2 separate regions of the Homo sapiens genome follow, and region 1 is linked to region 2. The links come from fine-mapping of genetic effects on gene expression. A gene starts in region 2. The other region holds a variant in brackets. All regions are shown on one strand. Distances are between the middles of the regions.

Evidence for each region. PIP is the estimated chance that this variant, and not a neighbour inherited with it, causes the effect. A credible set is the group of variants that fine-mapping cannot tell apart.
Region 1: its variant is the best candidate, but not a certain one, in a credible set for the expression of ZFP36L1 in whole blood (INTERVAL, PIP 0.71).

The regions. Positions count from the first base shown.
Region 1 is chr14:68,729,244-68,734,614 of GRCh38, forward strand. LOC105370547 (a long non-coding RNA gene) reads left to right here. Exons shown (of 4, transcript XR_007064227.1): 2 at 565-3,137; 3 at 4,703-4,896. Among named protein-coding and RNA genes, the nearest start is that of RAD51B-AS1, 46 kb to the left of the region's middle. RefSeq lists an enhancer at 1,493-2,046. The variant G/A (reference allele first, on the strand shown) is at 3,151.
Region 2 is chr14:68,790,343-68,795,713 of GRCh38, forward strand. ZFP36L1 (ZFP36 ring finger protein like 1) reads right to left here and starts at 2,725. Exons shown (of 2, transcript NM_004926.4): 1 at 2,540-2,725; 2 at 1-150. The coding sequence starts at 2,596. RefSeq lists enhancers at 1-258, 4,346-4,890, 4,553-4,712 and silencers at 2,883-2,952, 2,973-3,172.

The DNA.
Region 1 (5,371 bases), 61 kb before region 2:
TGCTGCAGTGCAGTGGCACAATCTCAGCTCACTGCAACCTCCGCCTCCCAGGTTCAAGTGATTCTCCTGCCTTCGCCTCCTGAGTAGCTGGGATTACAGGCGTGCACCACCACACCCGGCTAATTTTTCTTTTTTTTTTTTTTTTTGTATTTTTAGTAGAGACAGCGTTTCACTATGTTGGTCACGCTGATCTCGAACTCCTGACCTTGTGATCCGCCTGCCTTAGCCTCCCAAAGTGCTGGGATTACAGGCGTGAGCCACTGCACCCAGCCTCTCTGCATATTTTCTAAGTAGCTTGTTATTCTGCATTGCCCAGACTTGTTTCTCTGCCAACCCACCAGTCAGTAAGTAAATTAATTAGGTGATAAGTGATTCCTTGATCTTTTTATTATTACTATTTGGTTATGATGATTAAAGCAGATGGTCATCTGATTGGGCATAGGTCATGCATGCAAAGCAGCTGCAGTGGTATCTCAGGATTGTTTCCTTATCAGAGACCTGCCATCCAGGTGTTTCCTCATCTTAGGAGCCGCCCTCTAGGTTTCCTCAAATTGTGTCTTTCAGATGAGACCCACCCATCGGAGCCAGGCTTTGAAGGAACTGACCGCAGTGTGCATGAGGAAGTACTTCACGGTGATGACCCTCGCCACCCTCTCAGGAAAACACAGTGACCTCTCCCCCAACATCCCCTTCCCACTCCCAGGTCCCCCGGCAAAGGCAGAAGAACCAAGCAAGCCTTTCCACCAAAGCAGCCATGAACCCCATTCTCATCCTTTCCAAGAACTCTCTGCTATACCAGATAGGGGTTTGGGGTTCTGTTTTCCATTTTTTAAAAAAATCATTTCAAGACTCTTGAACAGTGTGTCGGTTTACACTATTCTATCTTCTTAAGCCACCATATCAACATATTCACTCTGCTTCCTTTCTTTTCATTTGGCAGATGCCACACTTTTAATGGCAGCAATAAAAGGTGTTTCTATCAATGCCAGGTGGGCAGCCCTGACCATCTAAAGCCTCGGAGAGGGTTATACCAAGTCTCCTGTACACCTCCGTGCTAGTGACAACATGTGGGGACCTCTCATCCCAAAGTTTTGGGACAAAGTCTCCCGTCCCTTATCATTTGTTTTCACTGAGGCTAAATGTATCTGTTCAGTACATGGATAGATTTTTAAGCTCCTCTCACAAAGTCTTGTGCTTGAGACAAAATCAGCCCAGGTTCTGCACTTTGTCTATATTTCAGCAGCTCTCCTGCTTGATATTAAAAATAGCCTTGTCTAGTCCATCGAGATCAGACCCAGGAGACAGGCGCCTGCTATTCTAATCTCTGCTTCACAAATAGCTCTCTATGGGCTCAAGCATCTATCAACACTTCCAGGGGTCTCCAGTTATAAAACAGGGCCAGGCCTAGTCACCTATAAAGGTAGGCTCTGCTTAACTCCCCTGAGCTGTCCATGAGGTTAGCATGAGGCCTACAACAATCACATTTCTACCATGGACCAGAGACTTCCAATGGTGACTCAAAACTGAGAAGCAGTTAAGAGCATCCCCCACACTCAGGGTATCCTGCATTTCCCAGGCCAGAACCTACAAAAGGTTCCCTTGAGACTCAAACTCAAGCAGCACTGGTAAACAGGCTGCCCCTCCCCGCTTCTTCCCTCCTCCTGCAAACCACCCCCCATCCCTCACTTTCACCTCCCTTCCTCCCCAAGCCCATCTTGTACTCTGTGAAAAACTGTAGTCCCCTCAGTTGCCAAGGGAACCAAGCCTTTTATTCCATCCGTGACTAGCTGGTTGGGCTGAGGAGTGGGGCAACAACTGGTACCCAGGCCTTTGGAAGCCCAAGCCCTCCCTTTTTCCCAAAGGGGGAGGGGTGGGCTGCACCCCCCGTTGCCTTTTCACCCAAACCCAGCTGGGTGGGACCGAGCCCTTGGGCTCTCAGGAGCTCCCTGGCTGTGGGCTGGGGAGATCAGTGCTCCCCAGGCCCTCCTCTGGCCCTGGCCCTTTCCAGAGGACAATAGCCTTCATGCAAGGGAAAATTCCATCGCCCAGGGTTCAAGTCTCCAAGGAGTTGCTGGGGCCTCTATTTAGCCTGGAGTGGGCTCTGAGGAGCCGCTGCAGCTGCCCGGCTTGTTTTCCCCCTCGCTGTGTTTTATTTTTAACCCCTGAGCTGCCAAGGATTGTTTTTCCCCAACCAGTGCCTGGGAACTAAGGGAGGGAAGAAATAAGGCTTTGTTCCCTTTGGGGAACTAATTGGGAAAGACAGGCAGTGTGGCCAGCTTGGCTCTATTAGGGTGTGGGGCTCCCACCCCTCACTGCACAACATCTTCACCCCAATCCATACCCAGGAGGCTGGGAGTGCAGAAGTGCCCCCCAGGATGCAACCAGAGGCCCGGGGGCTGGTGGGAACGCAAGTGCAGCTTCAAGACTGCAAAGGCAGCTCAGAGCCACTTTCTTGGGCTCCGAAGATATTCAGGAAATAAGATGTTGGGAGCTGGAAATGTCTATTTTTCCCATTTCAACCCCCCCCAAACTAACCCCTGCTTTTCTCCTGCTGGTGGTGGTGGTTGTTGTTTTCCAGACCTGCATAATGAACTCTAGAAGAAAAGTGAGGGAACTCAAAAAAGTAAGAAACCAGAAAATAAAGACATTATACTTTTAAACACTAGGCTAATCAATGGGAAACACCCAGCAACCCCACTTATAAGTTTACTCCGTAAAAAATATTCCTTATACTCAGAAATTTAATTTCATTGCAAATCAGCTAGGAATTAATGAAAAATTTCTTCCACGGCCATTTTATTTTAAGATCAAATGGATTCCAGATAGGGACCCATTAAGAATCTAAGGACCATTTTGATCCCGTCTAGGAACAGAGCAAATTTCTAAGGAATCACCCACTTGCAGCAAGCCAGCACATTCAAGTTAGGGCTGTGGCATATGACACCCAGTGCGTTCAAGTAAAGACTGCTCGTCTATTTACCAAGAATATTTGAGAAAAGAAAATGCCCCTGCCTGGTGGACAATAGCACAAAGCATTTCTCTGTACCTGGGCACATTTGTTCCACTCGATAAAAGAGGACCCCTGACCCAGGTACACAGGCAGTTGGAGAAGAGGACAACGATGAACTGATACAAAGGTAAGAGGTTCCC[G/A]GTAGCATTGGAAGAACACAGATTGGTGCATAATGCATGGCATGTGCAATAAAAGTAAGTTGCATTAAAACTTCAGCCTTGTTAATGACTACAAAAAAAATTGTTAGAAAGAATGAATAAGATCTTGGCCAGGCACAGTGGCTCACGCCTGTAATCCCAGCATTTTGGGGGGCCGAGGCAGGCGGATCACCTGAGGTCAGGAGTTTGAGACCAGCCTGGCCAACATGGTGAAACCCCATCTCTACTAAATATACAAAAAAATTAGCCAGGCATGATGGTGCACGCCTGTAATTCCAGCTACTTGGGAGGCTGAGGCAGGAGAATCTCCTGAACCCGGGAGGCGGAGGTTGCAGTGAGCCAAGATCAAACCACTGCACTCCAGCCTGGGAGACAAGAGCGAAAAGAATGAATAAGATCTGATATTTGATAGCACAACAAGGTGACTATAGTCAATAATGATTGAATTGTACATTTAAAAATAACGAAAAGAGTATAATTGGATTGTCTGTAACACAAAGGATAAAAGCTTTAAGTGATGGATACCCCATTTACCCTGATGCAATTACTACACATTGTATGCGTGTATCAAAATATCTCTCATGCCCCATAAATACACACACCTACTATGTCCCGACAAAAATTTAAAATTTTTTTTAATTTTTAAAAATTTGTTGAAAAACCATCAGCCCTGTTAAGTTGCTCACACGTGCTGTTGCAGCCCCAGCTCACCCGGTAGTAAATCCTGCTGACACAGGGTCCCCCACAGCTATGGGTCTATCCTTCCTCTGGTGTGGCAAGACTACATTTTCAGGAAGCTGCTGGGCAGAATGAAGCAACTCAAAGCTCAGGAGAAGTGTCTACGTGCCTTTTAGGGTTGGGGTTTAACCCAGCACTCAGGGATTTCCCAGCATGCAGACAAAGGCACTGACAGTTACAGCAGAAGCTGGAAGGGTGAGTCAAGCCAGGACTCAGCACGCTTGAACCCATCCACAGCTCCCACTCACATCATCCCACACTCCCTTTTCACATTTACTCCAAGCATCTGGAGCCCCAAGCTCCTGTGCCTCAACCCATGCCCTCAGTAACAGTATCCATTGCCAAGCCAGAATTGACTCCGGGCCCACCTTGCCACTCACTCAGAGTCTGTGAGGAGTGGGCACCGCACGCAGCCGTGAAACAGGCCAACTCACAGGTGGGCTCCCCACTGCACGTCTTGTCCGAAAAGACACCCCTCAGCCCCATCAGTGTTGACTTTGCATTGCGCCATTAGATTATTTCTTTCAGCTCTTCTTAAGACAAATGGCTGGCTGTTGGGAGGCTGGCCAGGGTTAAGGTGGAGCCTCAATGTGGCCATTTTCACAGCCCCGGCAAAGCCTGTGGTTGATGCCAAACCCCCATTGAACTGAATAGAATGGAGGAAAGCTAACCAACCCACCAGAATAATAATCACTAATGCTATGGAGTGATCACACAGCAAGACTGTTCTAAGTGTTTTATGTGTATTCATTTATTTTTACCTCATCATAAGTACTATTATTTTTCTATTTTATAGATGAGAAAACTGAAACAAGGTCACAAACCAGATGATCTAAAGGGTAGCCACTACTGCCTCCTAAAGAACCCCAATCAGGAATCCCAGATTAATTTGCCCAGCATCCTGTTTGGAAACCACATGTCCACCCTGCAACTGTACCTGGCTTGTGTCCCACAAGGAGGAAGATGCAGGGGACTCCGGAAGCTAAGGAGGTAGACATGGGGTTTACTTGGGTTAATGTGGCCGGGGAGTCAGGAGACCTTGATTCCCATTCTGGCTCTGCCCCTATCCGCATGAGGATGGCCAACTGTTCCAACCATGGGTTCCACTCTCCTCATTGCTCAGCCACCAGGTTTCCAGGTCCCTCAGGCCCCTGCACATCCTCAGATATCTGAAGAACAGTGATCGGTGTGACGACAGGGCCCCTTCACAGAACGAACTTGACAAAGAACCACTCACCGCACACACGAGCCTTAGAATGCACGTGTCAGTGTTTTGGGAAATATGTGCTGTTTTGAAATGTGTCTGGGCCATGAGCAAGTTTGGGGGGAGACAGGATAGGAGCTTTTCTTCCAGTTAATGAAGTGAGGCTTCATGGAGGAAGAAGATTTTCTTAGTCACATTTCCTGTTTCACACTGACCTTTTAAAAGGAAACCCACAAGTGAACCTGTGCTAGGGCCTGCTTG
Region 2 (5,371 bases):
GCTGAGGAGCTGGTTCTGGTGGAACTTGGAGCTGGGCAGGGTGACTGAGTGCCTCCGAGGGAAGCCCCCACCAGCAGGGGTGCCCACTGCCTTTCTGTCCAGCAGGCAACCCCCTGCACTGGGAGCACTATAGTTGAGCATCTTGTTACCCTGGAGAGAGAAGAGAAAGGATGGTAAGGACAGAGGACATCCACCAGGATGTCCACTATGGGCAGCCCCCTACACAATCACAAACGCCCGCTCTTTCTCAAAGAACTCATCTCTACCTCGGCTCTAGCAAGCTCCCTTCCCTCTCTCCCTCCCATAGGCCATTCACCTGGGTTTATTTTGGCCCCATGCGTAAGAAACCACAAGATCCAAACTGTGTGACAAGCACCCTGCTCCATGCTGACTCCTGCAATGCAACCCCCATGTCCTCTGTCCCCAAAGCTACCACTTTAAAGTTCAACTTTTTTACTAGTCAAATAGATTCTTCAACTCAAAATATCTCACACAACCCAGACCTCTCTAGATTACCGCACCCCGCCCCCGCCACCGCCCGCGACAAAAACAGGTAAACCTCAGAAAGGAGTCTATCATAGGCTACGTTAGGTCCCCTTCCAATCAGTCTCTGCTTAATTGATACCCCCTCCTTCAAGACCTGGCCTAAGACTCTCAACTTCCTCCTTCAGAAGTGTTCCCTTCCTTTGGCAACAGGTTTTCAGACTGCCTTTGCTTTTTCTTGTGGGGAGGAGATTGGGGGCCTGGTCTGAGGTTGGGGGAGACAGGGATGTGATTCCTGAAAATAAAACTCTTTGCCCTAAGTTCCCGGAAGAGATATTTTCTACAATAATCTCTCTCACCATTTCCACTCAGCCCTAGCCCACCCCGCCCCCTTCACTGAGAAGATGCCTTTGCAATTAGTCTTTTGGCTGCAAGAGCAAGCTTGGATAAGAGCTCCAGTGTTTAATCTTTAACGCAAAGCTGCAGATGGAAAGGAAAAGGAAAGCACCAACCCCCCTACCCACCTCCTAGTCAATAGCGGATTGGGGGTGGTGGGGATGGGGGCAGAGCCACCAATGGCAGGTTTCTGTTCCAATAGGACCCTGGTCACCTGCCCAAATTGTACCCAAGATTTGGAAATGGTGCAGGTCAGGGACCTAGGAGTTAGTTCCCAGCCCATGTGGGTGTCATTGTGCAAATTCTAATGTTGGTCCCTTAGGATCAGCAGGGGGGGACCGGGAATCTGTAACTGCAACCACCCCACCGAGAGGATTACAGGAACCCAGTCGAGAGCTGGTTCCCAACAATGAGGTTCATTTAAAAAGTCGTGAGGGGGGAGGGGGGCCAAAGAAAGAAATAGATCAAAGAGCGGGAGAGTCGAGAAAAGAAGGAAGAAATGTTGGGGAGCGCTGGCAGCCGGGCTGGCAAGTGGAGTTTGGGAATGTGCAGGGAGGGAAGGAAGCTGAAAAATTCAAACTTTTTAAATGCTACTCTTCAGCTCCTCGGCGTCCCTGCACCCCAACCCTGCAGCCCTGGGGCGTTGGCAGCTGCACCAACAGGAGCAGCAAGCTGGGAAAACAGAGCAACATGACCCGACGTGTTAAGAGAAGGCAAAACACTTCAGCAATTAAAAAGTAGCCCAGCAGCTTCACCCTTTCAAATTGGGAGGGGGAGGTTGGAAAGAAATTTAACAACATCCATAGACTTTTGCTATGTACATTTAAACCGCAGTCCTGGAACATTCCGAGTTTAAAACTTGCTTTTTCAACACTGGCTGACAAGCAACATGTTTTAAGGAGCCCCCCATTAAATCCTTACTCGCGGGACTCTCGAGTTCAAGCCAGCATTTTGTCGCCACCTCCCCCCCCAACCCCGCCCGCAATCGATGAGCCGCAATGCCTCGGCAACACAGGTAAGCGGGTCAACCTGAATGCCTCTTTCACCCCAAAGTTTGCTGCACGATCGGCTATCGCGGGAAGAAGCCCAACGGAGCTAGGGCGGACTCAAGCCCCACTGCAAACTTGTTCTGCAACATCTTTTTGAATCACAACTTGGCCTTTCTTCCTCGCATATCCCCAGCTCCCCCCAAAGAGTGGAGGAAAACATTGTCCCGAGACTCACTTCCCCGAGGGACCTCCCACTCCCAACCCCACGGGTGGGTAATGCCGCTGGACAGACCTAGGGCGCAGACTGGGAACCCGATCAGACCAGCAAACCTGGGATCCAGCAGCACGTTACGTAAAACAGGATCGCCCAAAACTTGTCCCAATCCCAGCCCTCCCCCCGAAGCCCCCGGGCTGCCCTGCCAGGCAAACTTCGCCCCTCAAAACCCTGGCCTCCAGATTCACATGTAATCCCCGCCAGCAACTGTTGAAACTCAAAGGGTGGGAAGGACGGGGCCAAATTCCTTCAAACTTGGGAGAAATGCCGGAGGAGAAAAGAATCATCTCGCTGCACCACTTTCCCCATTGCCTTCCAAGACCCAAACTTTTGGGGGTTCTTTCTTAAGGCAAAAGAAAAAGACTTTTTGAAAAGCAAATGCTCCGCCCCCCTTTACCTTGCATAAAACTTCGCTCAAGTCGAAGATGGTGGCAGACACGAGGGTGGTGGTCATCCTGTGCGTTCGCGCGAGCCAGGGGCGAGGATCTGGTGTGTCGCGAAGGTCCCGGTGCGGGGAAGGCGCAGCCTCTCCTGTCTGGAGTCCCACACGCCAGTTCCCGGCGCCCCTCGCCTTTCTGACTCCGGGCTGGGGCGCGCAAAGCCCAATTTATAAAGTTCAGATTTGGTGGGCCGGGGGGAGGAGGAGCTTTAAACTTATTTAAATGAGGAAGAGGAGGAAAAAGAAGTTGATTGACACTGGAGTTGAATCAGCCATGCGGTCAGGCGGGGAGGGGGGGCAGGGGGAGGAGAAGAAACTTTCAAAAGGAAGAAGGGGGAGGGGAGACGAGAAAAGAAGGCGGAAAAAAAAAACCCCACTGTGAGCCGCGCACAACTTTTTTTTTTTTTTCTTTAAGAGGAAAAGTTTCAAGTCGGCTGACTTCCCTACCCGGCGCTTCAGGCGCCCCCTCTCCGGGGCCGCGCGGGCGCAGAGCGGGAGGGGCGCGCCCCCTCCTTTGTCAGCCTCAGAGCGCGGCTGTGACGTCACTCATTCCACTCCCTCCGGGGTTCTTGTTGTCATGTTGTTGTTTTTTGTTGGGCAGGAAGGCGGGCTCGACTTTCTCTTTTTGCCAGCGGGAGCTGAAGCCCGTCCTTAGCGCCCGGGCCGCGGTTTCCATCTTGAGCTGGCGGTCTCCTTGAAACTTCCCCAAGTGTCTGCACAACTTACCTTTTCCCGACTTCTCTTCGACACTCGGCTCCCTTCGGCAAACCGGGCAGGCCGAGGACATTAGAAATTTGGGACGCACAGAATGTTCAAGCCTAGGATTTTATGTTGCTGTTTTTTTTCCAGCGGGGCGTAGGGTGGGGCGCGCTGCTGGGGGGACTAGGGAAACTTTTTCCCCAGGAGGACATGGTCTGGCGGGGGCGAGCGCGGCACAATTTAGTGCGCCGCACGCGTCGACACTCGCGCTCGCTTTGCAGCCGGCGCTCTCCGGGTGTGGGCGGGTGGGGGGCGCCGCAAAAAAAGACCACAACCCGGGACGATTGTTTGTTTTACCAGGCCTAGGCGTGCCGTTTCTTTTCACGCATCCAATCTTTAAACTTTTTAGTCAAGAAAACCCTAATCCTTCCTGAATGCCCCTTCCTCCCAGAAAAAGCCCACCGAGCAACTCACTACTTTCCACGCGCGCTCCGAATTCTGGGCGGCGCCACAACCCTCCCTCCTCCTCCATCCTCCCCACACACACCTCAAGACTCTAGAACAATGAAAAAAGGTTACTTTGGTAAGAATGAAGGTAAAGAGGTGGAGGGAGGCGGCACTTTTAACTTATTGTTGCTTCTCTCTCGCCCCCACCGGAGTGGAACATATGGCTTGTCACGCTGCGCCGTTTTGGCGGGAGGTGGAGAGGGGGACATGGGAGCCACGAAACCGAAGGGCCCGCAATGGAGCATGACTCCCTTGAAAATGATAAAATATATACTGTTAGGTTTGGATGCCGCCCACCCAAATAAAAAGTTAACGAGTCCCCCACCCGCCCCCTGCGCCTTGGCCCGACTGCTGGCGTGATGACCCAGGCGGAAGTCGCAGGGCTGCGCTTCTTTCCGATTTCCACGCGGGCTCCGCCGCCCCCCTCGGCCCTCGCACGTTTCTTCCCAGCACTCGAGGCCGCCGAGTCTGTTATGAAACCCGGTGCTGCGGAGTGGCTAAGATTGAGTTCCATTGCGATGTAATTAGGTCACCCCATTATGAGCACGTTTCTTTGGAAAGGACGGGGCGGGCCGAAGAGAGCGCATTCTCACCACCCCCAACACACACTTTTTTTTAAAACTGCATTTCTTATTTATTCGTAAACATCTGGGCAAACCCAGCGAAACCTTCCAAATCACAATTGTTTGAGAAACCGGCTGTTTTTCAACTTTGTGAAACCCAACTTTTGCTGCAGCCACGAACCTACGTGATCCCAGCGGGGTCGGCTTTCATTTGTCTCCTCTGCCCGAAATGGATGGCCCCCACTTTAACTCGGCTGCTGCCCCTCGCTTGTTCTGCTGCTGCCCTCCAGCCGTCTGTTGCTTCCCTCCCCCGCTCCCATTTTTCAGCTTTTCTTGAAATCTGGCAAGCGCCAGAAAGGGAAATAACTTCCATCCACCTTAATTTAAATCATTCAAGTGTAGGTTTCTTTCTTAGAGGGATGTTTGCTCGTTCCTTTCCCAAGTGGGTGTTGGGGCGGTGGGGGAGAGATTTCGTGCAGTTTCTTGGTGATGAGGTAATGAGTTCCAGATTTCAGGACAGAGCAGAGTGCGCGTTGAAACCACAAGGTTAGTCTGAGTTCTGATGTGAAGCTATTTCGGTTTTTTATTCCCCCGGCCTCCACCCATTCCCGCTCCCCCACCCCCCACCCCCCCCAAAAAAGAGGCCGGCTGGTCTTTAACTCCCGAGGGTTCGCGAAGCTCAGCTGGGGGGACCGGAGGAGGGGCTGGAAAAAAGCAAAGGGGAAGGGGACTGGGAGCGGGCGGGGCCCCCTTCCCGGCCCAGGGCCTGTCCCCGCGGGGCACCGGCTATGCCCCTGCTTCGGGCGGCGCCGCTTTCCCTCCAAGGCTGCGGGACCGGCCAGGAGCACCATCAGGCGCCCCAGAATGGCTACAAAGTGGATTTTTCCAAAGAAAGCTGATTCCTCGAATTTCCTCGGCTTTTCCAACTCCCGGAGGCCCTCCCCTCCCCCTCTCCCCGGGGGCGCGGGCTCCGCAAGGCTGCGACTGGCCTAGCCCGCTCGCTCCCGAGTTGTTTACCGGC